Linked DNA regions of Homo sapiens. The protein of the gene in region 1 interacts with the protein of each later gene in a pairwise test. Each region holds a gene or a part of one and is shown in the gene's direction. Other genes may lie near its edges. The genes, in order: CLEC2D, FAM3C, SYT15B, NKG7, ADIPOQ and SEC22A.

Region 1 (5,419 bases):
TAAGAACACATATTTAAATCTCATATTAATGTGTATGGAGCATAGTAAGCAGTAATAACCTGGCATGTTGTCATGCCAGGCTAGTAACAGTAAAAGTAATAGTAGTTTCACTGGAAGGTCCAAGATTAGTGTGGAAATTCCAAGATGATTAGTGTGGAAATTCCAAGATAAGTGTGGAAATCTCAATTTATCAGGGTTTACCTTTTGTCCCCTTTAAGCTAACAATGAAATTATAAAAGGATATAAAAGGGATAAGCCTGACAGTTCATATCCACTTCTGTGTATGATAATATAACTGGAGAGACATCAAACTCATGCTGAGAACAACTAGAAGAGTTAGAATTGAAGAAAAAGGATTTCATTAAGATATTAGAGAGTGTTCAAGGCAACTGGAGGCAGAACGAAGATTCTGGAAAGGGGCCACAGAGAAGTGAGTCAGCATTCCAGGAGCCACCCTTCTCTTAGGGGCATCTTGGCAGTGGGTCAGATGCTGAGATTCTGGGGAGAGGGCTGTGGATACCAGGCATTTTTTTGGGGGAGAGAAAAATCTCTTCCTAAAGCACTTGAAGGACCAAAACCCCCAGAGAGGAGAGAGGGCCAAAGAAATGAGAAAAATTTTTCTCTCAAGCAATTTTCAAATTATTAAATTTCACAGGAAAGGAGGTTAGGAAGAACTATGTGAAAAACAGACTTGAACTTTTGGCAATCACATGTTGTTCAGGAGACAAAACCAAATTCAACTTCCAAGAAAGAGAAGCAGCTTTGATAAAAAGCAGGTTCTCAGATGGAATTACTAGAAGGCTTTATCATAGGTCCTAGGACAAACTAGAAATGATGAAATAGTAAAGAAAAAGATATATAAAATCTTACAGAAACTGGAACTCAGTCCTAATGCAACTTCATTTCTATTTGATAAAGGCAATAGCTGTCCAATCTGGAACTTATTTCTTACAGGTAAGGGGGGCTACTGTATAGAATTCAAAAGCAGGGAAAATATGTTGTCAGAGTTAAGATAGAGATTGTATTTGGGGTAATGAGCGTTGCAGGACATGAGTAGGGCACATAGCGTGTTGGTATTGTTTTACGTGGTTTTAAGATATACTTCATCTAGGCACTTGTTACATGTTATATTTTTAATGAATGTGTTTAGTTGTATGCTTATGATTTGTGCACATTACTATAAATTATATTTTAGTAAAAGGTGCCCTTACTGGCATTTATATACAAGAAATCAACACATCTGACAAGAAGCTCTTGCTGCTAAAGAGCCTCTGTGCTCCTGGATCATGCCAGAGGGAGCACAGAAGCTGCACACCGTTCAAGCCCATTTTTGAAAAGTTGTTGTAGCAGCCATAGCAGCAAATTCCCAAAATATCTTGAAGAAATTGAAAACAAGATATTTTTTGAATGAGCGTAAACTCTTGGGAATGAATTTTAATTTGAGATTAAAATTGCTGTTGTCTTTACTTACCTAACATTCATTTCCTCTGAGAGCCAACTCCTTCCTTTCAATAAATTCTTATTTTCTATCATAATATTGCTTTGTACCGCACAAAATACAATTATAATTTTTAATAGTCAAAGAAATTTTAAGTTATCAAACATTAGTTTCTTTCGTAACCAAAATACTGTTAGAGAAGTAGCTTCAACTTTTTAAAATTCTTACAAACACCAGTTTATTCTGTTGTGATGAGCTGATTTTTGAAACAATTTATGCTTCATTTGTTCCTCTAGCTATATTTAACTTAAAGGCTTGACATTTTGAGTTACTGGGGCGGTTACACACTTACACGTTTTAGTCGTTGGGCTTTTTTTTTGTTTTGTTTTGAATCATTCTTGGGGTTGAAAACGTAGAGACTGTGGTTTAGATCACTCATAGAAACTGGAGGCAAAATGCATGACAGTAACAATGTGGAGAAAGACATTACACCATCTGAATTGCCTGCAAACCCAGGTAAGAAGCTGGGCTCTACAGAGTAAGTGTGAGGACTGGAATGGGAAGGTAGTGGTAGTGATGGGCTCACACAGGAAAGGTGCTGATCTAGTAAAAAGTTTTCAAGGATAAGAGATGGAATGTGGGAGTCCATAAATTGGCTTATAATTTGTGTAAAACATGCATATATTTATATTCCCAGTTCTAACAACTAAGGAGAGGGAACAATGAGAGAAAGATGTAAGACAATGAGATAAGGTTAAGTTTAGGATTGAAAATAACAGTTAATTTCACTAAAAAAAAATCTATACAAACTCTAAAGTGTTACTCAGATACAAGATACCATCATTATTACATAGGTAGAAAACCTATCATGGAAGCTCTTAAGAGAGAAAAGGTAGAAAATAGTATGTAAAGGACATTTACAAATCAAAAAAGTAACAAAGGTTGAGTAGAAACTTAGTAGGGCATTCTAATGGAATTATGTTACATTGGATGCACTGGAAATATATATATATATAGCTTTATATGATGCTTTAGTAAGTGAAAAAAATGACTTTTGCCACAGTTAGGGAATATCAAGGTTTTATAACTTAGGACTTAAAAGTTTGGAGTTTTCTCCTCCCAACTTAAAAGGTAATCAATTTGGAGAAAAGGTAATTCAGAGGCAGAAAAAGATGAACTCTAAATGTTGTTAAATGACTTCATTTATTTCTTCATTCATTGGGTATTTTGAGCATTTTATACCAAATGCTTTAAACTGTTTGTCGGATAGTTCCAACATCTCTGTCATGTCCTCCTTGGCTTGTGTTTTCTTTCCCCATGGAAGTTGACATTTTCGTGGTTCTTCATATACTGTGTAATTTTGGATTGTAATTTGAACATTTTGAACAAATATTTAGTTAGACTGGATCTTATTTAAATTTTGGAGTATATTGATACTATTGTTTTAGCAAGCAATCACCCTGGTGAGATGAAGACAATCTGTGGGATCTGGTTCCAATGTCAGTTCCATTCTGAAAGCCTTTGTAGTGCTATTCAGACATGTGCATCAACCAGGGGTGAAATTGGGAACTGTGCAATGCTCTACTCATTAGTTCAGGTCTTAGCATCTTTAGTGTGCCAATTAGAACCATATCTAGGCATGCATAAGTTGAGGGGCAGGTGAATCCAGGAGTTTATGAATAATGTTCATGGGTCTCTTTCTAAAGTTTCTTCCTCTTCACCATCTGACCCGTACTTTCAGGTTCCCAGGGGCTTCTCCTTTCCATCCTCCAGCTAGAAATGCGGGCCTCCTTTTATTCTGATGAACCATATACTTCTGCAATTATAGCTGCATCTTTAAGCTCATGTGGCAGACGGACAGTGAGAAAGAAGAAAAAAAAAGCAAGAGGTTTGGCCCCACTCTCATGGAGCTACAGCTCAACTGAATGGAAAGGATTGACTTTAGATTTCTTTTCTTTTTTTGAGGTGGAGTCTCACTCTGTCCCCCAGGCTGGAGTGCAGTGGCGCGATCTCGGCTCACTGCAAGCCCCGCCTCCTGGGTTCACGCCATTCTGCCTCAGCCTCCTGAGTAGCTGGGACTACAGGCGCCCGCCACCACGCCCGGCTACTTTTTTGTATTTTTAGTAGAGACGGGGTTTCACCGTGTTAGCCAGGATGGTCTCGATCTCCTGACTTTGTGATCCGCCCGCCTCGGCCTCCCAAACTGCTGGGATTACAGGCGTGAGCCACCGCGCCCGGCCGAGGATTAACCTTTCTCAAGGTTTTGGCTATTGCATGTTGCTGTAGTTTCCCCTACCATCATCAGATTGCCTGAGGTTTGAGGCACATGAGAATGTAGACAAGAGGGGGAGAAAAAATAAACGTGGTATTTTCACACTCTATTTGAGATAGGAGTTTGCTTTTCTGTTCCTCAGACCATACCTCTAGTGCTTCTCCTGGAGCCCTCTCTTTATGCTGACAGAGGCTCAATTCCATGTTTCTGGCTGTATTAAGTTCGGGGCAGTGATACTAGAGGAGGGAAATTTAAATTCACCACTGGTTTGATGGCTCTTTAAATTTGGATATTCTTGTAAGATCTGCTGCTAGTATATCCTTTTTCCTTTTGCTCTTTTTTGTTTTGTTTAAAGACCATATTTTTAGAGCCATTTTGGGATCACAGCAAAATTGTGAGAAAGGTAGTTTTTTTTTTCATTTTCTCCTTGTTGCCACACATATATAGACTCTGTCTTAGTCTGTTTTGTGCTGCTATTACAGAATACCCAAGACTGGGTAATTTATAATGAACAAAATCTATTGGCTCATAGTTCTGGAGGCTGGAAAGTTCAAGACTGAGAAACACATCTTGCTCCATCATCCCATGGCAAAATTTGGAAGGGCAAGAGAGCACATGCATAAGAAAGAGAGAGAGCAAGAGGCACCAAACTTGCTTTTATAACAAATCCACTTTCGTGATAGTAAACCCACTCCCATTATAAGGACATTATGACCTGATTACCTCTTAAAGGACCTGCCTCTCAACACTATTGCATTGGGGATTAAGTATCTAACACATGAACTTTGGAGACACATTCAAACCATAGCAGTCTCTAACATCAACATTCTTCACCAGCAGTACATTTATTACAATTAATAACCTACATTGGCATATTGTAGCACTCAAAATTCATAATCTGATGGACTTCCCTTTGTCAGTGACCTGACCTTTCTCCCTGGCTGCCCTTAATATTTTTTCTTCCATTTCGACCTTGGAGTATGTGTCTTGGGGTTGATCTACTCATGAAGTATCTTATTGGGGTTCTCTGGATTTCCTGAATTTGAATATTGGCCTGTCTTGCTAGGTTGGGGAAGTTCTCCTGGATTATATCCTGAAGTGTGTTTTCCAACTTGGTTCCATCCTCCCTGTCTCTTTCAGGTACTCCAGTCAGTGGTAGGTTCGGTCTTTTTACATAGTCCCATAGTTCTTGGAAGTTTTGTTCATTTCTTTTCATTCTTTTTTCTCTAATCTTGTCTGTCTGCCTTATTTCAGCAAGAGAGTCTTCAAGCTCTGATATTTTCTCTTCTGCTTGGTCAATTCAGCTATTGATACTTGTGTTTGCAACATGATGTTCTCGTGCTGTGTTTTTCAGCTCCATCAGGTCATTTATGTTCCTCTCTGAACTGGTTATTCTGGTTAACAGCTCCTGTAATCTTTTATCATGCTTCTTAGCTTCTTTGCATTGGGTTAGAACATAATGCTTTAGCTCAGCGAAATTCGTTATTACCAACTTTCTGAAGCCTACTTCTGTCAGTTTATCCATCTCAGCTTCAGCCTTGTTCTGTGCCCTCACAGGAGAACTGTTGCGATCATTTGGAGGAGAAGAGGCACTCTGGCTTTTGGAATTTTCACCGTTTTTTCATTGTTTTTTCCTCATCTTCGTGGATTTATCCACCTTTGATCTTTGAGACTGATGACCTTTGAATGGGGTTTTTGTGGAGTCTTTT
Region 2 (4,947 bases), on another chromosome or scaffold:
TATCAGTTTTAGAACAGCAGTCCTATTATTCATCACAGTTCTACCCTCTGACTTGCAGCTAATTTTTTAGGTAGATGAATATTTGAGGGAAGAAATAGAATTTTCTTTCTTGTAAAGCAATCCACAGATATTTTCCCCTTCCATATTTGGAAGTCCCACAAGGAGTGGGAAGAAGTTACCAGCACGCAGAGGCAAGGGACTGGCACCCCAAAGAAGAACGCTGCCCGGAAGAATGGGTTTTTTTCCTCCAGTTTGAAGGGAGGCCAACACTGGTTTATCTTTTGATTCTTTAATTTGGGAGATTGATCAGTATGAGGATCTCCCCTGCACCTCCCCATTCCATTTATATATTCCCTAGAAGCCAACAGCTATTAGGCTTCCTGAAATTCATGTTAAGAGTTCTCAGATAATTTAGCTTTTCCAACATATCTTCAGCTTGTAATAAGATGGTATGTAGCCGGACGTGGTGGCTCACGCCTGTAATCCCAGCACTTCGGGAGGCCGAGGCAGGCAGATCACGACGTCAGGAGATGGAGACCATCCTGGCTAACACAGCGAAACCCCGTCTCTACTAAAAATACAAAAATTAGCCGGGCATGGTGGCATGCACCTTTAGTTCCAGCTACTCCTTGGGAGGCCGAAGCAGGAGAATCCCTTGAACCGGGGAGGCAGAAGTTGCGGTGAGCCGAGATCTTGCCACTGCACTCCAGCCTGGGCGACAGAGCCAGACTCCGTCTCAAAAAAACAAAAGATGCCGTGTATTATTTTGTTATTAAATAATGTTAGGACAACATTGCATAGCTGTCAAAGCTGTATAAACTTAAAATGGGACCATCAATTTTAGATTCTAAAGGCATAAATTGGTCCTGCCAAAATTTATTGATAGAAAGAGTCTTACAAAGCTGTTGTTGAAATCAGTCATGTGACCAGGAGCTCTGGTATTCCTTACTTCTCTTGTCACAGGTAGATTAATTACCGCTAGCAGCATTCTTCTAGTTAGGAAATTGTTGCAGTTTATTGCCACTTTTGCATTTAAATGGAAGTAGTTTGTTAGCTGCCTTGTTATATCTTTTTGAATTGAAAATGCTATTATTATGAAATATAATCAGTTATCGAAAATCTTTGGCATCTTTGCTGTGGAAAGAAACTGAGTACATTTGAAGTAACCCAGTTTTGGAGTAGAATTAGACTTCAGAGCTATAAGGAACCCAGACATTGTAAAGAGTTCAAGATGTCAAGTGGTTTTTAGAATCTGACCTATGTATCTGGCATCAACAGTTTATAGTCATTGAAGTGGTTTATTTTGAAGTCCTTGTGGATTTTGATTTGGTAGATCAAATGAGTAATGACTGTAATATTTGCTACAATTAGTTTGGCTTTTAGTGATCACCTAACATATTCCTTCTCCCAGTTTATAGCAAATGATATACCTAAAATAGCCTTTAAATCTGTGTGTATATGTATTTTTAGATTTTCTAAAAATTACAGATATCTTTGAGAATCGGAGAAAAGCTGTGTATCCTCTTTCTAGTAAAGTACCCATACAAACATTGTTATGCTTTTTTTCGTTTCGTTTTTGTTTTTTTGTTTTGTTTTTGAGACAGGGTCTTGCTGTGTCAACCAGGCTAGAGTGCAGTGGTGTGATCTCAGCTCACCGCAACCTCCACCTCCTGGCCTCAAAGCAGTTCTCCTGCCTCAACTTCCTGAGTAGCTAGGACTACAGGCATGTGCCACCAAGCTCGGCTAATTTTTAAATTTTTTTGTTGAGATGAGGTCTCACTATATTGCCCAGGCTGGTTTCAAGCTCCTGGGCTCAAGCCATCCCCCAGCCCTGACCTCCCAAGGTGCTGGGATTACAGATGTGAGTCACTGTGCTCAGCCCATACAATTTTACATACACTTAAGGAGTCCACACACCTCCCATGCCTCCTTAAGCTTATGCATGGACCCCAGAATAAGGTTTTCAGGATCCCAATTATTCAAATCTGAGAGATCTCTGAATTTCTTACTTCGTAAGTCATGCTTTACTTTGCTATGATTTTTTTCACTTAGCCCCAGGAATATCAATACGAAAGACACAGGATAAATCAGGAATGGGAAATTGTAAGTTGATAGTGGGATTATGTTAAGGGACAAATTTAACAGTTTTTAAACTCTTTATGAGATTTGTCTGTCTTTTGGATTACTTTACATTGGAAATTATTGCTTTACAGATACTTCATGTTTTATAATACTACTTTCAGAGATTATCGTGATGCTTATTCAGTCATTTTTTAAAACCCTAAACCCTTTCTTTTTCTTCAGATGTGGCACCATTTATTGAGTTTCTGAAGGCCATACAAGATGGAACAATAGTTTTAATGGGAACATACGATGATGGAGCAACCAAGTATGTAAACTTTACAGAACTTTTTGGAACTATAATTTGTAATTATAAAAGCAATACATTTTCATTAAAAAAAAATCTGTAACATAGAGCAAAGTAATCAAACTACCAGGTAAACACAACTAACAATTTTTGTTTTTACTTTGCCTCCTTCCTGGTTTTATATGTAAATGTTTATCACACATATATTGTCATGAAATTAGAATCACATCATATGTAACATTTTTTATACTTTTATGTTTTGTTTTTTAACATTCTGAAATTGTTTTTCCTAGCATTAATATTCTTCAATAGCATTTTTATGGTTCATCAGCAGTTATGGGCTCACCTTTAAAGTTTCCCTATTATTATGTCATTAGGGTAAATTTCAAGAAATGGAGTTAATTGTCAAAGATACAGGTGTGCTATATTTTAAATAATTTTAATATATAGTAGTTTTATAACTTTTTCTTAAAATAGTATATGTTGTAAAAATTTGGAAAATTATAGAAAAGCGCAAAGAGACCAAGTTCCAGTCCATCTCACTACCCAGTGTAAACATTGATGATATTTTAGTTTCTATTCCAGATGACTTAAGACACATTTTTTGGCATTAAATATTTAGAATGCTAGTATTTATAGCATATCTCTTCACTTACGTGGTGAATATTTCCCCTTATTATTAAATATTCTTTATAAAAAATTGTTTATGCCTGCCTAGTCTGGTTTTTAAAATGTCATGATTTATAACCTGTTTAATGGGTTGCCTATTGCTGGACCCAGACTAGTTCCAATTTGCATACTTAGCACAATAGACTATCTTAGAAATGTTTGAACAGTCCATGTCTATGTCTTTAAGATAGACTTCTTTTTTTTAAAGTGGAAATGATTAATTAAAGGATGTGCATGTTTTTAAAAATGGATTTTAAAAATTTTTTTACCAATTTTATATTTTTCTCAGAAGTTCCATGGCACCAATTGTTAATTTTTTTAAGTTTCAATTTTAAGAGTTTGAAAAGGTATCTTATTTTAATATGCCTTTATTATTGAGATTGGATTTTTTTCACAAGTGGTTTTTTTTTCTTTTGCCTTTTTATGTAAATTGTCTTTTGACCATTCGAGTTGGCCTATCTTGACTTGTAAGACCCCTTCACGTTTTAAGGATATTAACCATTTCTAATGTAAAAAGAAATGTATTTATTGTACATTATTTGCTTTTAATTTTGTTAGTGTAGGGTGCTTTTTGAATTTTAGAATTTTAGACTAATGCCTATATAGTCTATGTATTTTTCTATCACTCTCCTTGTATACTTGAGAAGTATTTTTCCACCTCCAGGTTAGATATTTAGTAGATTTTCTCTTCCAGTGATTTCACTGTTGTCATGTATTTTTAAAAACCCATTTGTAATTTCCCCATGACACACAATGCCTATGTTCTTATGTAGATTTGGCTTTATCTCTGGAATTTCTGTTCTGTTCCATTCACTTGACCTGTTTATCTCTGTTCCAAAAAGACACTATTTCAATTATTTTAAAATTGTTTTATAAAAGTAATTGTACTTCATGCCTCTCTGGTTGAGATTAAATCCCCTTTAATGTTCTTCTTTCTAGAAAAAAATAATTTTTTCTCTGACTTTTCTTCAGATGACTTATCAAGGATAAAAAACATCCTTTATAGATTTTAATTGACAGAGCTTTAATACTACAAGATTTATAGATTTTATAGATTTTAATTGACAGAGCCTTAATACTACAAGATTTATACAGAAATTTGTATTTTTATGTATTGATTTTTATAAATGTATTATTTTATAGCTACATTATCACAGATTTACATGAAAACAGTGATACTTTATAAATGGTTGTAAGCTGAAGTAATTTCATTGACATTGTGCGTTTTATCTGGTTCAACTAAGAATATATTAAATCCATAAATTGAAGGTTAACATAAAACTCGCCTATTCAAGCATTTTCATCTACCTAAATAGAATGAAACAGGATGTAATTAGGCTCTCATCAAAAAACAGGTAACTTGCTATTTGCTTTTGCTGAGAGAATAGGCTATTACGTGTAAAATTTGAAGTTTTAACATTAAAAAGAAAAGGCCCCACTTTTCTGACTTGACAAACATGACCTCCGTTTTTCACCAGATTATTTTGTTATACCTGATGGGAATCAAAATTGCTCCCCTTAACCTGCTAATATGCTAATAATAAATTATAGCCACAACTAAGAACTAGGGGAGGAATGATGTTTACTCTTCAACTGCTATTTTTTGGTGCCCATTAAATGCACCAAAAGCAGCTTTGGAAGAGAGTTCAACCTCTAGGGCAAAAGGAAAAATCTAAACTTTAATTTCTTTACGTTTGGTCACTTGGTCAATATATGATTCATCTGTGAATTTAAATGAATTGAGTTGTATTAGTTTGGGGCACACGAATTTATATTTCAAATATTTCCTTTTCCTAAATACCAGTAAAAGAAATTGTAAGCATCATATCTTTTATACTGAAATGGACAACATCCTTAAGAAAGGCAATCTACATCTAATATATATATAACCCTTTTATCTTGGCAGGTGT
Region 3 (5,675 bases), on another chromosome or scaffold:
CTGGGGTGGTCAGGTGGGGGTGCATGGCAGCTGGGGGAAGGGGTCAAGATAGCTGACGGGTTCCATGTAGGGGTCCCCTGAGCCTTGCTAGCTGCCTGAGTCCAGTGTTGAGGCACACTGAACTCTAGACAGAGGAAGGGGAAATGTAAGCCACCCCTCCCAGGGTACTGCATGGACAACATGGTCCACACAATGGTCCTAGAGATATCAAGTCCTCATCCCCAACCCCGTGACTACATAGCAAAAGGGGCTTTGCAGGTGTGATTAAGTTAATGATCTTGAGATGGGGGTGGTGGTTATCCTGGATTATCTGATGAGCCTCTTATAGAGAAACGCCACACTCTGAGATGAATTCAGAAGTCCTTTATTAGCCGGCAACCGAGAGATGGCTAGTGCTCAAAATTCTCTCGGCCCTGAAGAAAGGGCTAGATTTTCTTTTATACTTTGGTTTAGAAAGGGGAGGAGGAGCCTAGCTGAAGCACTCTTACAGAAGCAAAACAGGCAAAAAGTTAAAAGACAAATGGTTACAGGAAAACAAACAGTTCCAGGTGCAGGGGTTTTAAATCCATCACAAGGCGATAGATGCGGGGGCTTTGGGTACCATCAACCGGACACAAATGTGGGGGCTTAGGGTACTATCAACTGGGCAAATTCCTGGGAACTGCGGATATAGCTTGCCACAGTATCTTATCCATTAATTGCATTCTTTGATGTGCTGGGAGTCAGCTTGCACAAGTTAAGTCCTTGAGGAAGGGGGGTGGGTAAGGGGCTGCAAGTGAAGGAGCCAAAATGGAGTGTGTCTGGCTCTCTCAGCTAAGGGACAGTCAATTCAGGTTAAAACAAGGTAGGGTATCACACTTACAAGAGGGAGGCAGAAAGAGTTGATGTGAAATGACCTGGAGTGGGAGAGGTTAGAAAAGGCTGTGCTGCCGGCTTTGAAGACAAAGGAAAGGGCCACTAGCTAGCAGCCTCTAGGAGCTGGAAACGCTGGGAAACAGCTCCCTTGCCTCCAGAAGGCACAGGCCCTGCCAACCCAGTTTAGATTCCCGACCCCCCGAACTGTGAGATAACATGCGTGTGGCTTAAACTACTCAATCTGTGGTACTTTGTTGCAGGGGCAACAACAAACATACAGACATCTAACTCAGACCCGAGGCCTTGGGTGGGACCCAGGCCCCATTTCCTGAGACACCTGCTCCCACAGCGACCTGGGGTAAGCAGAAGTGGGGGAGGATTCTCCAGACACCCCAGACTGTCTCCAAGTAGAGCGGAGATCTCGCCAGTTAAGCGCACAGCTGAGGACAGTTACTGGGTGAAGTGGCCTGGGTCTCCGCCTTCTCATGCCCCCACCGCCCAGACCCTAGAAGGGGAGTGGCTGCGGCCTCTGCACCCTGGCCCTGAGGGCTCCCAGACCCGGCCCAGTGGGGCACCCCAGTTCACCACCCTCCTCGCCTTAGGTGAGCCAAAGCCCAGGCAGGGTGGAGCCTCACGCACACTGACTGGCCCCTAGGACAGGCACAGGTGACGCGGGGGTGTGGGACCCAGGCTATGACTCTGGACATAACCTTCAAGGCTGTAAAACGAGAAGGTCCATCCCCCCAAAACACGCACTCCCCCACAACCACCCCCTCCCCCCCCCACACACACACTCCCCTGCACCACAGATACACACATTCCTTTCGCTCCCCACTCAGACGCCTCGAGGCCTCGGCGGGGGAACCATAGGGGCGCGACCAGGGCGCGCCGAGGGGTGACCAGAGAGGACACGCAGCGACCTTACTCCCGCCTTTCCCGCAAGGCGCGTTCGCCAGCCTGGACTAGTGGGCACGGGCCCTGCGTTCTAATAATCACCATAATAATAGGCGCTGGGTGTACAGAGGGGACCCAGGCGACGCTGGCCTCCATCCGATAACCACCGTAACAGGGGCTGGGCCGCGCCGCTCCTCCGCTCTAAGTGTTCTTTACATGCTTCTTAAGTTACCGGCAGGCCAGCCGCCCTTACGAGAGCCCCTCACGGACATTAACCCAATTGAGAAGACTGAACCCAGCATACGAACGTTAAGTTGTCCCAAATCGCAGGGCTGGCGAGTGAGGAGCCTGAATTGGAACCCAGGAGCTTCTGGAACCCGCTCCAGAATTGCGCTCTCGACCGGTTTGTCCGCTGAGAGCGAACGGGTGCGCGAGCGCCGCATCCCTGCCCAAGGCCATCAGGCAGGCAGCGCTGGGGCCCGGGACCCGCGCGGAGACTCCACCCCGGGATCCGGGAAGGCTCCCCCGAGCCGGGGTCGGAGCTGCGGCTGGAGGGGCCTCGGCTTGAGGAGGATCTGGGAGGGCGGGGGCTCAGTCCTGGCCACCAGGTGTGAGGGGTCGGGTGCGGAGCCCTGTGTCAGACGCGGCGGTGAAGGCTGTAGCCCTGCTCTCCGGGATGGGGGTGGTACTCTCACCGCACCCTGCCCCAAGCCGCAGGGAGCCCCTGGCGCCCCTGGCGCCCGGGACCCGCCCTGGCTGGAGCCCTGCGGTTTCCGGGAGCTCACGGTCGGCTCTGCGCCCCTCCACCGCCGGGCCTGGGCCTGGGCCAGGGACTGGCTGGGGCGGGACTGCGGCCTCGGGGCGCTGGGTCCCTGCCCCTGCCGTGCACTGCGCGGCTCCCCGCGCCGCAGCTGGGCACCAGCAGCACCACGGACCGCCCCTGTGCTCGCCCGACGGCGCCCCGCGGCGCTTTAAGAGACGGCCTGGCAGCCCAGCCCCAGCCGCCCAGACCGGCGAGACCAGCCTGCGGGAGCAGCCCCATGGCGGGTAAGCGAGCCTCGCCTCCCCAGCCCAGCCCCGGCCCCTCTGCGACCCTTCCAGCACTTGCCTCCGCCCCGCCGCCCCCGCTGGGGTGCAGCGCCTGCCCTGCCCGGCCTCGGCGCGCTCTTGGAGGGGCACTGGGATGGAGTAGACGCTGAGGCCCGCTCTTCGCGGTCAGTTGCGGCTTAGGAGGTGTGGGGGGTCCGGCCTTCTCACCACCCCACCCAGTGCAGATCCCTGAGACCTGAATGCCCCGCGGCCGCACGTCACCCTAAGGGAGGCACCTTTTTGGCCCGCCCCAGGTGGCCAGCGGTTGGAACCCAGCGTCTGAGCACCCCCGGGGCGAAGCCTCCTAGGTCCCGCAAATGCGGACGTGTGAGGGCCAGCAGCAATGGGGCCTTGCCCCCTCTTCCTCCCCACCTCGTCCACCGCGTCGCACCAACTCCCCTAAGCGCGTGCTCACCTTGATAGAGGGCTAGGGGAGGGAGCGGGTGTTAGAGAAGAGTCCAGCCTTGCAGCAGGTTCCAGGGCCCCAGAGGGTAGAGGTTTGATTGCAGACCAGGGGGAAGGTACCTTTCAGGGCTTTCCTTAACTGACTGCGTCCACACCCCAGCTCCCCTCCTGGCCTCAACAGGAGCCCAGGGGATATGGAGGTTCTGGTGAGGGCAGGTTTGATTTCTACTCAGAAGCGCAAGGAAATGGCTTCTTTAAGCCAGAATCCCAAGGGCAGGGCCAGCTGTTTTCCAAGGAAAACTAGAAGGTTCTGCCCAGGGCTCTCAGACCCTGGGGTAAACGGCTTCTCCTCTGAGAGCTGGCGGAACCTAGCCAGCAGCATCCCTCCCGGAACCCATCCCCAGCAGGCCTGCTCCTATCACTCCTGAGATCAAACCCAGAGGCAGGGTTGCTGCCCTAGTTCTGCCCCAGCAGGCCAGGGCTGTGAGGGAGAGTGGCCTTCCCAGGCAGGCATCATAGTACTGGTGGTCTCTGCCCCCAGAGCAGCTGGCCCTGGTGATTGGGGGCACCATCGGGGGGCTGCTGCTGCTGCTGTTGATCGGGGCAAGCTGCTGTCTGTGGAGAAGGTTCTGTGCCACCCTCACCTATGAGGAGCTGCCTGGGACACCAGCCATGGCCACCACAGCTGCCTCCAGTGGGCAGCGGGACAGGCCCTGCCAGCCGCATGCTAGGACCCAACTGAGCAGGTGAGGCAGGATGTGGGGCCAAGTGCGCCCCTGGAATTTCCCTCAGGGTGGGGTCGAAAAGGAAAGTTCTGTTTATGGGGGTGCCTCTTCTATGCTGCTTCGGTGCTGGGAGCTATCACAAAGAAACCCCAGAAACCTCACATCAGCTATTAGGCAGGTGTTATGAAACCCATGTTCCAGGTGAGGAATCTGAGGCTCAGTGCACATAAGCAACAGGTCCAGAGAACACAATTAGTAAGTGGCAGAACAGGAATCCAAACCCAGACTGGCTGACACTGTCAGGTGCTGTGTTCCTTCTCCAAATCCCACTGCTGTGTGTGTGTGTGTGTGTGTGTGTGCGTGTGTGTGTGTGTGTTGCCTGGTATGGGCCCAGAAAATGGTGCCCTGGCCTCCTCCTGGCTCCCGATGGCTTTTCTTCCTCCAGCCCCTGGTGCTCAACCGTCCTGGCTGAGCGCTCTGAGACCACACCATTCACTTGCCACCTACATGTTGTCTCCCTGACTCTGGACAGGCCACCAGCTGTGCCATTCGTGGTGCCCCCAACCCTTCAAGGCCGAGATTGGGTGCCCCTGCACAGTGGAGAGTGGGCCGATGCCCCATGGGACCCCTGCCCGGCATCAGAGCTGCTGCCTCACACCTCCAGCGGCGGCCTTGGTGAGTGTCCTTGCCAGGGCTGCCCAGAGGTCAGGGTCTGCTCGGGTGGCCCCATCTGCTTTCACCAGCTTGGCTCCGGAACACAACCTGAACCAGCCAGGGATGCCAGGGACCACCCAGGGACCACTCTTTCTGGGTGCTTTCATTTATGAAGTGCTTGCTGCACCCCATGAGGGTGAGATATGGCCTTGGGTGCTGATTTGGAGTGAGACCTCACCATGACTCTGAGGGGGAGGAATTATCACCCCATTTTACATAGTCTTAACTGAGGCTGTAAGCAACAGATTGGAATTGGAACCCAGGCACGCCATGTACAGAACTTGTGCTGGGTCCCACTCTAGGATGATGGGTTGGTTGACCAAGAGGACAGAATGGTAGGGGCTGCAAACACAGCTTTCTGCCACCTCTTTGCCCTGAAGATCTACCAAGAGACCATCACAGGAACCACCCAATAATCACCTTGGCCCTTCTAATTTGAAGAGGAAGAAGAAAGGCAATGTTTTATCGCTGAGTCATTCCCTAGACGCCATGGAAGGGGGCTAGGCCAGGTGATGGGCACTGTGTCCTTGAAACAGGTCCTGACCTCCAAGGATGGGGGCCAATCCCAGGGGGCAGGACTCTGCTGGATCCCCAGCCTGGCCATGCAATGCCTTCATGGTGAGAAGGCTTCTTGGAGGAGCTGCACCAGAGAGAGGGGATGTGTTTAGCCTGGTGAGGAGAGTGGGGCAGATGTGGTCAGGCTAGCTGAGGCTCAGCAGAGACGGATGGGCCAGGATGGGGATGGGTGCCCAGAGCTTGCCACTGTCTCCCATGCCCCTGCCTTCCTCTGGCCTGCCAGCCCTCCCACCCTCTGTCATAGGAGATGCATGTATGGTGGGGGCCATCAACCCAGAGCTGTACAAGTTCCCAGAGGACAAAAGTGAGACCGACTTCCCCGACGGCTGCCTGGGGCGGCTGTGGTTCTCGGTGGAATATGAGCAGGAGGCTGAGCGGCTGCTGGTGGGCTTGATCAAGGCACAGCACCTGCAAGCC
Region 4 (4,280 bases), on another chromosome or scaffold:
ATAGGGATGGGTTGAATTTGTGGTTGGAACTGGGCTTGATACTGAGTTTGGGGATGGAGTTGGGTTTGGGGTTAAGGATGGCTTTGGGTTTGGGAGGGGGTCAGGGTCACAGATAGATAGGCTGTGTGCTCTGACCTGCTACTCACTGCACACCATGGCAGGTTTTCCGGAGACCTGGCCTGCTCATGGCCTCTGCCACCTCTGGGAGCCTGTGCTCATAAATGTGTTCTCAGAGTGGTGCAGATCTGAGTGAAGGATGGGGGCTGCCGATCTGAGTCTCTCCAATAAAGGAGAGGAACCAGTCTTCCAGGTCATTTCCCATTCTCCACATTTGCCAGCTGTCCTGGGACTGCTGGACCAGTTCATCTCCAAGACAGAGGTCCTCTTCCAGACTACTCCCTATGTATTAGTCTATTCTCACACTGCTATAAATAACTGCCTGGCCGGGCGTGGTGGCTCACACCTGTAATCCCAACACTTTGGGAGGCCAAGGTGGGCAGATCACCTGAGGTCAGGAGTTAAAGACCAGCCTGTCCAACATGGTGAAAACCCGAAAATCTACTAAACCTGAAATCTACTAAAAATACAAAAATTAGCTGGGTGTGGTGGCGGGCACCTGTAATCCCAGCTACTTGGGAGGCTGAAGCAGGAGAACTGCTTGAACCTGGGAGGTGGAGATTGCAGTGAGCCGAGATTTTGCCACTGCCCTCCAGCCTGAGTGACAAGAGTGAGACTCTGTCTCAAACAACAACAACAACAACAACAAATGCCTGAGACTGGGTAATTTATAAAGGAAAGAGGTTTATTTGATTCACAGTTCAGCATGGCTGGGGAGGCCTCAGGAAACTTACAATCATGGTGGAAGGTGAAGGGGAAGCAAGCCACTGTCTTCACAGAGTGGCAGGAAGAAGGCCAAGCGAAGGCAGGAAGAGCCCCTTAAAAAAACACCATATCTTGTGAAAACTCACTCACTATCACAAGAACAGCATGGGGGAAGCCGGCCCCATGATTCAATTACCTCCACCTGGTCTCTACCTAGACACGTGAGGATTATGGGGACACAATTCAAGGTGCGATTTGGGTAGGGACACAAACCCTAACCATATCACCGTTTCACAGAGGTCAAGTTTTCCTGGGCCTTCTACCTGGGCTGTGGTACCGTCACCTTATACCTGCTCGTAGATGAGGTGTTGCCAGGACCTGATGGTGTGGATGGAAGAGGCTAGCGTTTGGGGGGCTGGAGAACCCTAAACCAAAATCCTTATGTCCCCCAACACCCCCTAGGCCCCCCGATCCTGGTGATAAAGGCCACCAGGCTGGAGCCCCCACCCAAGCAGGGATGCCACTGAACTCATTAATCAGATGAGGATGTGGGTATGTCTGACTCTCTGCAAACCTTTCAGAATTGTGATTCTCTGCTGTTTGCCTGCCCTTGGCATATGCTCCAAACTGGGGCCCAGGATTCTGAGCTCCTGCCCGCCTCTTCCTCCCTCAGGACCTGGAGTTCAGGCCCCCAGCTCCTTCCTCCTTAAGCCCCAGGAGTTCTAACTCCCAAGTCCCCTCCTTCAGTAGAGACCCTAGACTTGGGGACTTCCTCTCCCAGAATGGAAGACTGCATAACCCACAGGAAAGCATGACACATCCCCAGCTGTCCCCTCCAGCCACATCTGCCCTCCCCCTTAATGTACACCCTAGCCTGATTGGCTTCCTCCCACCTCAGGGCCCCCAAGCCTCTCTCTCTCACCTCTTCCAGGAAGCCCCGACTTGGTGTTGAAGGTTCCATGGGTGGGAGTTGTAGAATCTGTGACAGAGGCAAGTACTAAACCACCGCCCAAACCACTGATGATCTGACACCCTCAGTGCCCTCCCCCATCACACACTAAGCGGGGAACTGGACCCCAGGGAGGGGAGGGAGGACGTTGCCTGTGCAATCCAGGAAGGGAGGGTATGTGAAAAGCTACCGGGAACTGTGTGAAACCAAACCAGCCTCATGTGACAAAGCGCAGGACCCCTCACTGCCCCAACTGCTTGCTGTTCTCTCTTTCTTGGGCTCTAAGGACCCAGGAGTCTGGGTGCACAGCCTCCTTCTCTCTGAGATTCAAGAGTCTGATCAGCAGCCTCTTCCTCCTCCAGGACCCAGAAGCCCTGAGCTTATCCCCATGGAGCTCTGCCGGTCCCTGGCCCTGCTGGGGGGCTCCCTGGGCCTGATGTTCTGCCTGATTGCTTTGAGCACCGATTTCTGGTTTGAGGCTGTGGGTCCCACCCACTCAGCTCACTCGGGCCTCTGGCCAACAGGGCATGGGGACATCATATCAGGTAAGGGGAATGGGTGTCCTACAGAGGGGTTGCCAGCGGGGATGGGTGCTCAGTGGTCTTCTCCCGATCAGGCTACATCCACGTGACGCAGACCTTCAGCATTATGGCTGTTCTGTGGGCCCTGGTGTCCGTGAGCTTCCTGGTCCTGTCCTGCTTCCCCTCACTGTTCCCCCCAGGCCACGGCCCGCTTGTCTCAACCACCGCAGCCTTTGCTGCAGGTAAGGACTCTGGACTGGACTGGGGCATCGCGAGCCAGCGAATTCCTGCCGAGGAGCTGAGCCATCTCTCTTGTCCTTGTCCCCAGCCATCTCCATGGTGGTGGCCATGGCGGTGTACACCAGCGAGCGGTGGGACCAGCCTCCACACCCCCAGATCCAGACCTTCTTCTCCTGGTCCTTCTACCTGGGCTGGGTCTCAGCTATCCTCTTGCTCTGTACAGGTGACTATCCTGCCCACTGCCCTGGGGAGCTTTGGGAGGGTCCAGTTGGGGTCCCTGAGGACAGAGGGCAGGGGCAAGTGCTTAAACTCTTTCTGGCTCCCCAGGTGCCCTGAGCCTGGGTGCTCACTGTGGCGGTCCCCGTCCTGGCTATGAAACCTTGTGAGCAGAAGGCAAGAGCGGCAAGATGAGTTTTGAGCGTTGTATTCCAAAGGCCTCATCTGGAGCCTCGGGAAAGTCTGGTCCCACATCTGCCCGCCCTTCCAGCCCTTCCCCAGCCCCTCCTCTTGTTTCTTCATTCATTCAACAAAATTTGGCTGGAATCTGGTTATTTTGAGATTAATTCTGCCAAGACATAAGCCAACTGTCTGCCAGCTCCATGGTAGGAGCTGGGCACCAAGGGAAGGTGAGGGCCCACCAGGCCGACCAGCCTGCAGGGCGCTCCTGCCCAGTACGAGTGCCCGGCCCGTGTGGACACAGGCTCCAACCCGTGTCTATGTCTCCCCTTCTCCAGCACTTTTCTTCCTCCCTGTGTCTTTCTCCCTTTAGCTGGCTCTCTTTCCTTCTCTCTCCCTCTCTGATTTTGTCCCCCTTGCCAGAACTCAGCCCTTCCTTGCACTCAGTCAGTTCTCTTTGCACATTTCCCCATGCTGGGGACACTGGCACGGGTCAGACCCAGGCCCTGCCCAGCAGGGGCTCAGTCTGTGGGGTGGTGGGGAGGAGGCACTTACAGACCAGAAGCAGTTAATACAGGCCAGACAGCAGTCCCAGTGCAGGGAGAATGCCGGAAAAAGACTGACCATATTGTGGAGGGATGGAGACGACTTTTCTGGAGAGAGAACATTTAGGAGCTTCTTAAGGGCCAGGGAAAGGTAATATCCAGGCAGAGGGGCCCAAAGATGAACGTGCAGAAAAGTCAGGAGTCTTGTGGGGATGAAGATCGGTAATTTAGGGTCAGGATATAGAATGTGGGGGGCGGGGGATGGAAAATGAAGAGGGAGAGGCAGGTGGGGGCTGTGGCCTCTAATGTCATGCTGGACTTTCTCTTGAACATGATGGGGAGTTGGGAGAAAAATTGTGGGCAGGGGAGGGACAGTGTCAGCTCTGGGTGCCAGAAAGACCCCCCTGTAGACATGGAGGGGAGGCCAGAAGGTGAGGGAGGAACTTGGCAATGCAATAGGTGGGACATGATGAGGCCTGACCTGGGACCAGGAAAGGAGGGAATGAGCCAGACAGATTCAGGGGCAGGAGGAGCAGGACTTAGGGACCCAAGGCTTTTCAGGGTGAAGGGCAAGAAGAAGGTGAGGACAGTGCCCAAGGGTCTGGCTCGATGAACTGGATGGGATGGCAGGGCCATCCCTAATATGGTGGAAGACACTAAGCTCAGTTGGAATATGGTTGACTATTAAGGCCCTGAGGGGCAGCCAGGAGCAGGTGAGAACTTGAGTCAGGCTCAGGGGAGAGACCTTGGGTTGGAGATGGAGTTTTGGATGGAGCATTAAGGAGCACTGAAACTTTGGCCGTGAGG
Region 5 (5,690 bases), on another chromosome or scaffold:
GATTCTCCTCCCTCAGACCCCCGAGTAGCTGGGATTGCAGGTGCCTGCCACCACGCCCGGCTAACTTTTTTGTATTTTTAGTGGAGACGGGGTTTCACCATCTTCGTCAGGCTGGTCTCAGACTCCTGACCTCAAGTGATCTGCCCGCCTCAGCCTCCCAAAATGCTGGGATTACAGGCATGAGCTACTGTGCCCGGCCAAAGAAAATACTTTTTATGCCAGCCCTGAAACTACCCTGAAGCACATACATCAACCTTGAGGCCTCACACTCCATCAAGAGGGGTGAAGGGCATGAGGAATTAGAAAGCATAGGGATTTTTAGTTAGACAGATCTGGTTCAAATCCTAGACTTGTGCCTTGAACAAATTATTTACCCTCATTGAACTCTAGATTCATTATTTGTAAAATGAAAGACAATAATAGTTATCTCCAAAGGAAAGTTGAATATGATCATTCATTTATTCATTAATTCAACATTTATTATTGCCTACTTTGTGCCAGGTTCTATTCTAGGAACTAAGGGATACAACTTTGAATAGGCAAAATCTCTGCTCTCCTGAAGTTTACTTTTTTTTTTTTTTTTGAGACAGAGTTTCACTCTTGTCACCCAGGCTAGAGCGCAATGGTGCTCTTGGCTCACTGCAACCTCCACCTCCTGGGTTCAAGTGATTCTCTTGTCTCAGCCTCCCAAGTAGCTGGGACTACAGGTATGTGCCACCACGCCCGGCTATTTCTGCATTTTTAGTAGAGATGGGGTTTCACCATGTTGGCCAGACTGGTCTCAAACTCCTGATCTCAGGTGATATGCCTGTCTTGGCCTTCCAAAGTACTGGGATTACAGGCCTGAGCCACTGCACCTGACCTGAAGTTTATGTTCTATTAAATAGCAACAGACAGTAACATAAACCAAAAATAAATAGGAAAACACCATAACAAAAATCAAACAGTGATATAATTGAGAGTTGCTTCTATTTCTTTTTGTTGTCTTCTTGGTTCAATCAGCCTGCTAAACTATATGGAACCTCATTTTCATGGGCCACTTATTTAAGCCGGGGGACCTTGGAAAGTCTCTCATGTCTCTCATCTCAACGGCCTAATGTGACTTCTCTTGAAATATTTGGACATTAGCAGGAAGCTGAGGCTTTACATCAGATCTTTACTTTAATGGTGGACTTGACTTTACTGGTAGATTTTTAGGCTCTGTGTGGACTGTGGAGATGATATCTGGGGGGCAGGCAGACACTTGCCCTGCCTCTGTCTGAGAAAATTCTGTTTTGGATGTCTTGTTGAAGTTGGTGCTGGCATCCTAAGCCCTTGCTGGGGTCGTAATTTAATTCATCAGAATGTGTGGCTTGCAAGAACCGGCTCAGATCCTGCCCTTCAAAAACAAAACATGAGCGTGCCAAGAAAGTCCAAGGTGTTGAATGTTGCCACTTCAAGCCTAAACTTTCTAGGAACACCTAAGTGGGTGGCAGCTTCCAGTTCTCCAGGCTGCTTCTAGGCCAGAGCTGGGTTCCACAAGAGACAGAATAGGCATATATATGCTTAAGGAACTGGAAAAACAGGCTCTCTCTCTCTCACAAACACACACACACACATACCAAGGTAGCTGTCAAAATGTTATCCGAAATTTTGGAACCAAAAAATCTTGAAAGATGGTATTCCAATATCACATTTTATGTAAGTTTTCTATTATATTAGATTCAAATTACGATTCGAGGCCACAAGCTTTAAGAATTCAGGGCCTTTTTAACTTGCCAAGCCCCACACCACTCCAGGAACTTCCCCACACCCCAGTTCTCAGAATTCATGTGCAAGGTCTTTCCTAAATCCAGGGTCCAGGTCAGAGAGTGGAGGATGTGCTCTATTTCTTACCTGATTGCAGACCCCTCTGACAGTGCTCCCTTCTGAAGCACTCACTGTCTGAACGTACACAGTCTCAGACTTAATCATGCACAGTGAGCAAGACTGTGGTGTGATAATTGGCGTCCCTGACTTATTAGGGCAAATCTATGGGAGGGGGAGACCTCCTGGACCACTGAGCAATTAATTCATTTACATTAGGAAGTTTCTCCGTCAGATGCAGGAAAAAAATCTTGTTTTCCTGCTGTGGTTTTGACTTTTGCCCCATCTTCTGTTGCTGTTGTAGGAGGCAAAATAAGGGTCAAGGCCTGGAAACACAAGTGCTTTGACTGAAGCTCCACTTGGCTTCCGAAGCCCAAGCTGGGTTGTACCAGGTTCCCTAGGGTGCAGGCTGTGGGCAACTGCCAGGGACATGTGCCTGCCCACCGGCCTCTGGCCCTCACTGAGTTGGCCAATGGGAAATGACAATTGTGAGGTGGGGACTGCCTGCCCCCGTGAGTACCAGGCTGTTGAGGCTGGGCCATCTCCTCCTCACTTCCATTCTGACTGCAGTCTGTGGTTCTGATTCCATACCAGAGGGTAAGAGCAATTCTGTGAAGTTCCAGGCTGGGTGGGGGATGCATGCATAGCCTCTGGCTGGGATCACCCAGGCTCTCCCGTCCGTAGTAGTGTGGGAGTGGATACAGGTGGATACTCTGGTCAGAGCAGCACTGGTGGAGGCAGATATGCACTGGGCTTCTTCCTCCGTTCTCCCACAGCCCCAAGAGAGAAAGGGTTATTTCAGACATTCCTTCTAAGATGCATGGAACCATTCTGAATTTTGCCCAGTTCGCTCTGTAGCAGGATACCTATTGAGAAAAAGTTAGGGTCAGTAAGGTGGAAGGGTCTGTCCACAGATGAAGTCCAATTCGATTAAGGGGGATAAGGGAATACATTGCCTCTTAGCTTGACCAGGTAGGGCAAAGGAAGAAGCATATATGAAGGCAGCTTCAGAAAAGTCAAGCTGAGCACTGACTTCAGACTGGAATTAGGAATCCAGCTCTGCCACTTTATTCTACTCAGCAAATATTTACTGAGCAAATTCTATGGGCTAGACAGTGGATTGGGTTCACAAGATACAATGAGTGTGACATGGTTGTTGTCTATGGATTTGGGGATATATGTAGGTATAGGGATATCTTACAAGGTAATCAAGAGGTTCTAATGAGGCCAGCCATGGTGGCTCACACCTGTAATCCCAGCAATTTGGGAGACCGAGGCGGGTGGATCACCTGAGGTCAGGAGTTCCAGACTAGCCTGACCAACATGGTGAAACCCCGCCTCTACCAAAAATACAAAAATTAGTTGGGCGTGATGGCAGGTGCCTGTAATCCCAGCTTCTCGGGAGGCTGAGGCAGGAGAATTGTCTGAACCTGGGAGGCAGAGGTTGCAGTGAGCCGAGATTGTTGCCACTGCATTCCAGCCTGGGTGACAGAGCGAGACTTTGTGTCAAAAAAAAAAAAAAAAGAAAGAAAAGAAAAAGAGGCTCTAATGAGATAAAATGAGAAAAGCCTGGCATATAGTGGCAACTTATGAAAAATTGTAATTAAAAAAAAACATTTTCTGACAGAAGAAACTGGATCTACCTGGTTTTTCTGAAGCCTAATCCTGCTCGCCCCAGTGAGTGCTGTTTCTGAGGCATCCTGGTTGTTTTGAGCTGTGGATGCTGAAGGTTAGAGTGGGAGGGATTTTAGAGGTTAGGTCTGCCCCTCTTGTGTTAGAGGACATGGATCCCTGGTCTGGAGAGGTTCTGGTTTTTGGATCAAGCCTCACAAGGGGTGGCACCAACTCACTCCTAGGAACTCCGCTAGAAGGAAGGCCAGCTCTGCCTAATTCGGTTGGGGAGATGGGGGTCCCTTTATGCTAGCAGAATATGTCCGAAGGAGCATGATGGTGTCAGCTTTGTTCATGAAGGCCAGTGGTACACAGGGAGCCCGGCAGCTTCCTCAGCAGTCCCTGCTGCCACTCTTCCTTAAGTCTTGAGGAGTCTTTTTTTGGCACAATCTCAGCTCACTGCAACCTCCGCCTCCCAGGTTCAAGCGATTCTCCTGCCTCAGTCTCCCAAGTAGCTGAGACTACAGGCATGCGCCACCACGCCCAGCTAATTTTTATATTTTTAGTAGAGATGGGGTTCACCATATTGGCCAGGATGGTCTCGATCTCTTGACCTCATATTCCACCTGCCTCGGCCTCCCAAAGTGCTGGTATTACAGGTGTGAGCCACTGCGCCTGGCCGAGGAGTCTTAAGCTGAGATCACAGCATTGCACTCCAGCCTGGGCAAAAAAAGCAAAACTCCATCTCAAAAAAAAAAAAAAAAAAATAGACACAAGACTGGCTCCTTGTCTTTTTTGGGGACAGGGTCTCACTCTATCACCCAGGCTGGAGTGCAGTGGTGCAATCACAGCTCACTGCAGCCTCGATTTCCCAGGCTCAAGTGACCCTCCCATCTTAGCCTCCTGAGTAGCTGGGACTACAGGTGTGTGCAACCATGCCTGGCTAATTTTTAAAAATTTTTTGTAGAGATGAGGTCTCACTATATTGGCTGGGGGGCCTCAAACTCCTGGGCTCAGCAGTCCTCCCACCTCAGCCTCCCAAAAGGCTGGGATTATATGCTTGCTCTTTTTAAGGTGGCTGTAGGGACAAACTTTCCACCTACTCCTTGTCAAGCCAGTGGACCGGTGGTCCCAGACATACGGCTAAAGTCAAGAGGTGATGTCTTTTGGAGAGATACTTTCAATCAGGAATTTCAATCAGAAATTCAATCATGTGGAGAGAGACTTATCCTAAAAATGTGGTGGTGCGTGGGATGCTCTGTTTTATTAGTTCCTTGACAGTATGTATGTGTGTGAGTGTGTGTGTGCGCGCGCGCACACTCATTTGGATGGGTGTGTATGTGTGGGGGGGGGTGGTGCGTACGTATGTGGATGTGTGGATGTGGTGTGTGGGTGTGCGCGTGCATAGGTGGAGGTGTGTGTATGGGTGCGGGTATGTGTGTGTGTTGGGCATGGAGATATTGACAGCTCTCCCAGGGCTGAGTGAAGGCTTTCGGGCAAAGCTCCTGGGAGCTAGGCAAAGCTGAGTTGATTCCTGGTTATGCCATTTATTATTGGGTTGCACCGTGTGAAACTGCCAATATTCTACACTTTGACTTTTATTTATTTTTATTTTTATTTTTTTTGAGACAGAGTTTCACACTTGTCACCTAGGCTGGAGTGCAGTGGCGCGATCTCAGCTCACTGCAACCTCTGCCTCATGGATTCAAGTGATTCTCCTGCCTCAGCCTCCCAAGTAGCTGGAATTACAGGTGCCCGCTACCACGCCTGACTAATTTTTGTATTTTTGGTAGAGACGGGATTTCACCATGTTGTCCAGGCTGGTCTGAAACTCCTGACATCAGGTAATCCACCCACCTCAGCCTCCCAAAGTGCTGGGATTACAGGCATGAGCCACTGCGCCCGGCCCATTTTGACTTTTAAAAATGGGAGTTTGATATAATTCAATCCAGTGGTTGAATTAGCTAGCATCGTTCCCTCTCCAAGTCTCAGGTTCTCCTACACGTTAGAGTCAAAAGCAGGGCTATGGGAAGATTAAGTAAAATAAATTTTGAAAATGCCTTATGAAAATTACACTCCAAAGAACTCGCGCCAGTGTCAGTGTTCTCATGTTCCTCATCTCACATGATCACATTTCGCGGATTAGGAAGCTGAGTCTGAGAAGCTCCGTGTAGTGCTTTTTCGGAGGCACCGTGATGTGATGGAAGGCTCACTCGTTAGGAAGTCAGAACAGA
Region 6 (4,947 bases), on another chromosome or scaffold:
TGACATTGTGCTTTGATGGCCTGACAGAGAAGAGTTATCACTTAATCTTAGATAGTGAACATGTTTTAATTTAATGTTTTAAAAAGTATGGGCCTTAGACAATAAGCAAATTGTCAAGCCCTATCCCACAGTCAGTGGTTCAGAATTTTGAGGGCAGAGCTCAGAAATCTGCATTTTTAACTAAACTTTCAACTTCTTATGCAAGCTAAAGTTTGAGAGCCACTGTGTATTTTATGAAAGGTTGAGTGACTGTTGACCTGAGTTCCTTCAGACTCAGGCCTGTGAAGTCCTTTCATCTGTTTTTGTAAAGCAAGAAGAGAATCCAATAAAATAGGCCATTAAGATTTACTTTCTGGTAAAAAGATTGAGAACAACATTAAAACCAATATTCCTTTAGCTTTAGGATTTATTTTAAATAATTTTTTTCTGATTATAAAAGTAGTATATGTCTACTGTGAATATTGAGAACATTTAGGAAATTATAAAATAATAATAACCAATAATACCATTTCTTAGAGGTGAGCATATTCTTAATTTGGCATCTTTTTCTGCATCCGTTTTTCAATCCCTTTTTCCTTCTCTTTATCTTCGTCTCTTTATCCTTATGTTTGTGTAAAACAACATTTGCAATTTTTATCCTACTTTTTTCTCCTTAACATGTAAGCATTTTACCACATTATTAAACTTTCTCCACAAACATAACTTTTAGTTGCTGCATTATATTCTGTTATATGAATATACTATAATTTACTTAACCATCACCATTTTATAGGATATTTAGATTGCTTTCAGTTATTTGAGTGGAAGAATGTCTTTCTGTTTAAAATTTTGCCTGGATTTCTGATTATTTTTCTCAAGACAGGTATATATTTAAATTTATTGAGGTTAAAAGGTATGCCTTCAGACTCTTGTTGAAATTGCCAAATCATTTTGAGAACTGTTTGTACCAGTTTTTACTTCCATCTGTACTTATGAGAATGCCAGACAGAAGTATTATTTTTTAAAAAGCTAATGTGGCTGGGTGTGGTGGCTCATGCCTGTAATCCCAGCACTGTGGCAGGCGCCTATAGTCCCAGCCACATCCTATGCTGTGGCATGGGAACCCAGGCTGAGGCATGAGAATTGCTTGAACCCTGGATGGGGGATGTTGCAGTCAGCCAAGATGGCGCCACTGCACTCCAGCCTGGGTGACAGAGCAAGATGCTGTCTCAAAAAAAAAAACAAAAAACAAAAAACAAAAGCTATATGTTAAGTGAAGCATAGTATGTTGTTTTAATTAGTTTTTTGTTTTTTTTTTCCTCCTGAGACGGAGTCTCACTCTGTCGCCCAGGCTGGAGCTCAGTGACGCGATTTCGGCTCACTGCAACCTCTGCCTCCCGGGTTCAAGCAATTCTCCTGCCTCGGCCTCCTGAGTAGCTGGGATTACAGGTGTGCACCACCACGCCTGGCTAATTTTTGTATTTTTAGTAGAGAAGGGGTTTCATCATGTTGGCCAGGCTGGTCTCAAACTCCTGATCTTGTGATCCACCCTCCTCAGCCACCCAAAGTGCTGGGATTACAGGTGTGAGCCACCACACCTGGCCATTTTAATTACTATTCTTATATTACTAGTAAGTTGAACATTTTTACATATGCTTATCAAGTTTGGCTTTAATTTTTATGTAACCCAAATTGTTCATTTTGTTTTAGGTCTTCTCTGTTGGTTGAAATGTCTATGATTTTATCTGCCTCAGTCATTCGTGTCAGAGATGGACTGCCACTTTCTGCTTCTACTGATTATGAACAAAGCACAGGAATGCAGGAGTGCAGAAAGTATTTTAAAATGCTTTCGAGGAAACTTGCTCAACTTCCTGATAGATGTACACTGAAAACTGGACATTATAACATTAAGTAAGACTTCAGTTTGCTTCATTTGACTCATTTGCCCAGTAGTTGTCATTTTAATGAAGTTTAAGTGGTTGCAATAGAAAGGAGTGATTAGGAAAACCTGTTCAAGTCGAGCATCATATTGTTCTGAACTTATACTAAATAGTCATCATGTCAGCAGCAGCCTTTTTGTAGTTTCTTTGTATCTGGCTCTGGGAAATTTTATAGTTGTGCAGATCATAGATATCCCTCTTTTAAGTTGATCACTAAATATTTATTTGCATTCTTACATACCTAGGGTTGTAGTAAGCAAACTATAATTGGAAATAAAAATTTTTTACCTGATATCTGCCCTCAAAGAACTGAAGCAACTTACGTCTAGTGGGAGGGGGTAGCACTTATCACTGAGTCACATACAAATCAAGTAAAACTGGGCAATGGGATAGAGAGTGACTATTTATTGTGGTCAAGACACTCTCTGAGAGGGTGACATTTGAGCAGAGACCTAAAAGATGAGAGAGGAGGTAATTATATGAAGGATGCTGTGGATGAAGAGCAAGGCAGAGGTAGCAGCCAGTGGAGAAGCCCTTTTTTACATGCCAAGAGACAGAAAGAAAACCAGTGATCCTGAAGAATTATGGACAATTAATAGAGTTGCAGAAAGTGAGGCCAGAAAGGTAGGAATGGGGCAAGTTATGTAGTGAGTTTGGAGTCTATTAGTCTGTTTAGTCTAATGCAGTAGGAAGCCATTGGGTAGTTTTAAGCTATAGAGTTACATGATTTCATTTGGCTTAGAGTAGATCATTCTGCCTGCACTGTGAAGAATAAAGGAGGAAGTGGAAGCAGAGAGGTCAGATGGAAGACTCAGAGAAGTTCAGGTGGAGGTGCTGATTGTAACGAGCTAGGGTAGTAATGAATAGAAGTAGTTAGATTGGGGCTATATTTTGGGATTAATACCAGCAAATCTTCCTACTGGATTGAAATAGGATGTGAAGGTAAAAGAAGAATAATCACCTGTAGTTTTTTGGCCTGAGGAACTGGATGAATAATGTAGCTGAAATGAGCAAGAAAGGAGAGGATAAGTGCGTCTCCTTGGTAAAAAGTAAGAGTTCTGTTTGGACATGTTAAATCTGAGATGCCCATTAGACATCCAAGGGGCACTGCTAGGTAAGCAGCTGGATATATGAGTCTGAAGCTTAGTGAAGAGGACAAGTATAGACATTTAGATTTGGAAGTCAGCTTACAGTTTGTGATTAAAACCATGGGAATGGATGAGACCACCTTGGAAAGCTTAGACGTGAAACAATTAGAGAACAATTAATGTCTGATATCAAGCTGGATATTGATTATGCATACAGAAGGAAATAAGGTAAAAACACAGTCCATATAGGATATAATAAGCAGAGGGCTTCGTTGTTGAGATGAGACATGAGCCATGTCCTGAAGAATTAATAAGAGTTGGCTAAGGCAGGGAGGAGGGCATTCCAGGTGTACGGAGGAGAGGCAGAATAAGCAAAGAATGTGACTTAGCATGGTAGGTGTATTAACATGCTTATCCTGGGTCAGTGGATGGTGATTTATGGATAGTTGTGAGACATGCGTGATAATCATTGTGGGGCCAGATCCTGGATCGCCCTGAAAGTTCAGATTGAAGGACGTGACTTTGATGTAATATGTTATAGGAAGCTGTGCTGCAGGTTCAAGGGAAGTGACTTGATAAAAACAATCCTGAGACAGTGGAACTTAGGGTGAGTGGACAGTCCAAGAGGAGAGAGATAAGGCAGAGAGGCCAACTTATTAGGGCCTGAAGTAAGAAAATAAACGTGCAAATGAAAATTAGAACACCAAAAGAACTAGAATGATAATGAGAAATAGTTTGATTGGGGATCACTTTGAAGTTGGATCACTTCAAAAGAAGTGACCAAGCTGGATAGGATGGAATACCAGAGATGAAAAGAAGGAAGGGGCAAAGATGACTGAAGCCTTGGAATTGGACAGAATGTTGGTGTCATTGCCAGAAATGAGATCTTTGGAACAGACTGTTTATGAGGTGTGAGGCAGAAGAGAAAGATAATGAAGCTCCATTTTGATCATTTTTTTAAGACACTGGGGCTTGCTCTGTTACCTAGGCTGGAATGCAGTGGCATGATGACAGCTCACTGAGCCTCAACCTCTTGGACTCAAGTGATCCTCCCACTTCAGCCTCTTGAGTAGCTGGGACTACAGGTGCACACCACCACACCCAGCTAATTTTTTTATTTTTAGTAGGGATGAGGTCTCACCATGTTGCCTAGGTTGACCTCAAACACCTGGGCTCAAGTGATCCTCCTGCTTGGCCTCCCAAAGTACTGGGATTACAGACATGAGCCACTGCACCTGGCCCACTTTAATTATTTAACTTGAGGTTTTAGGCCAAGCACAGTGGCTCACACCTGTAATCTCAGCACTTTGAGAGGCCGAGGCAGGCAGATCACTTGAGCCCAGGAGTTTGAGATCAGCATGGGCAACATGGGGAGACCCTGTCTCTACAAAAAACTAAAAAATTAGCCAGGCGTGACATAGTCCCAGCTACTGTGGCGACATACGTGGGAGGATCGCTTGAGCCTAGGAGGTTGAGGCTGCAGTGAGCCATGATCTCACCCCTGCATTCCAGGGTGACAGAGCAAGACCCTGTCTCAAAAAATATATATAAATAAAATAAATAAATTGAGGTTTTGACAAGGTAGTTCAGTGGAGATGGGATAGAGATTTTGGAATCATTCACGTAGATGTGGTTGATATTGTGAGGGGAGAAGTGCCTACTGGGTTTAGAGAGAGGGCCCAGGTTAGAACCTTGGAGAATGTCCACAATTTCTTAGATCACCTGGATAATGGTAAGATGTTATATTTAATTGGGGTTTCTGAGGGTTTAATTAGAAAATATTGTGATTATGGTGATTAAAATATATGTAAAATGATGTCTCAACCTACTTCTATTTTTTTAGAGGAAAAACTTGAAATATTTCAATATTTTATTTAATAGGCTCTGTTAGTGTCCTGGGTCATTATTCTGAGTTTTATTTGTGAATGTATAGTGGTATA

What was found.
Region 2: the proteins of CLEC2D (region 1) and FAM3C interact in binary tests that used the Homo sapiens proteins (3 or more experiments, as listed by UniProt).
Region 3: the proteins of CLEC2D (region 1) and SYT15B interact in a two-hybrid assay, tested with the Homo sapiens proteins (one large-scale study listed by BioGRID).
Region 4: the proteins of CLEC2D (region 1) and NKG7 interact in binary tests that used the Homo sapiens proteins (3 or more experiments, as listed by UniProt).
Region 5: the proteins of CLEC2D (region 1) and ADIPOQ interact in binary tests that used the Homo sapiens proteins (3 or more experiments, as listed by UniProt).
Region 6: the proteins of CLEC2D (region 1) and SEC22A interact in binary tests that used the Homo sapiens proteins (3 or more experiments, as listed by UniProt).

What each region holds. Positions count from the first base shown.
Region 1 is NC_000012.12:9,667,842-9,673,260, forward strand, and holds the start of CLEC2D (C-type lectin domain family 2 member D), read left to right. Parts: upstream 1-1,871; 5' UTR 1,872-1,893; coding exon 1,894-1,954; intron 1,955-5,419. UniProt on the Homo sapiens protein: Receptor for KLRB1 that protects target cells against natural killer cell-mediated lysis. Inhibits osteoclast formation. Inhibits bone resorption. Modulates the release of interferon-gamma. Binds high molecular weight sulfated glycosaminoglycans.
Region 2 is NC_000007.14:121,357,485-121,362,431, reverse strand, and holds part of FAM3C (protein FAM3C precursor), read left to right. Parts: intron 1-2,304; coding exon 2,305-2,389; intron 2,390-4,947. UniProt on the Homo sapiens protein: May be involved in retinal laminar formation. Promotes epithelial to mesenchymal transition.
Region 3 is NC_000010.11:47,759,755-47,765,429, reverse strand, and holds the start of SYT15B (synaptotagmin-15), read left to right. Parts: upstream 1-1,837; 5' UTR 1,838-2,425; coding exon of another isoform or gene 2,426-2,789; coding exon 2,790-2,796; intron 2,797-3,784; coding exon 3,785-3,989; intron 3,990-4,500; coding exon 4,501-4,643; intron 4,644-5,481; coding exon of another isoform or gene 5,482-5,502; coding exon 5,503-5,675.
Region 4 is NC_000019.10:51,370,415-51,374,694, reverse strand, and holds NKG7 (protein NKG7), read left to right. Parts: upstream 1-2,040; 5' UTR 2,041-2,159; coding exon 2,160-2,316; exon of another isoform or gene 2,317-2,387; coding exon 2,388-2,534; coding exon of another isoform or gene 2,535-2,620; coding exon 2,621-2,755; intron 2,756-2,859; coding exon 2,860-2,918; 3' UTR 2,919-3,075; downstream 3,076-4,280.
Region 5 is NC_000003.12:186,840,308-186,845,997, forward strand, and holds the start of ADIPOQ (adiponectin precursor), read left to right. Parts: upstream 1-2,402; 5' UTR 2,403-2,442; intron 2,443-5,249; exon of another isoform or gene 5,250-5,300; intron 5,301-5,690. UniProt on the Homo sapiens protein: Important adipokine involved in the control of fat metabolism and insulin sensitivity, with direct anti-diabetic, anti-atherogenic and anti-inflammatory activities.
Region 6 is NC_000003.12:123,207,510-123,212,456, forward strand, and holds part of SEC22A (vesicle-trafficking protein SEC22a), read left to right. Parts: intron 1-1,311; exon of another isoform or gene 1,312-1,428; intron 1,429-1,689; 5' UTR 1,690-1,708; coding exon 1,709-1,890; intron 1,891-4,947. UniProt on the Homo sapiens protein: May be involved in vesicle transport between the ER and the Golgi complex.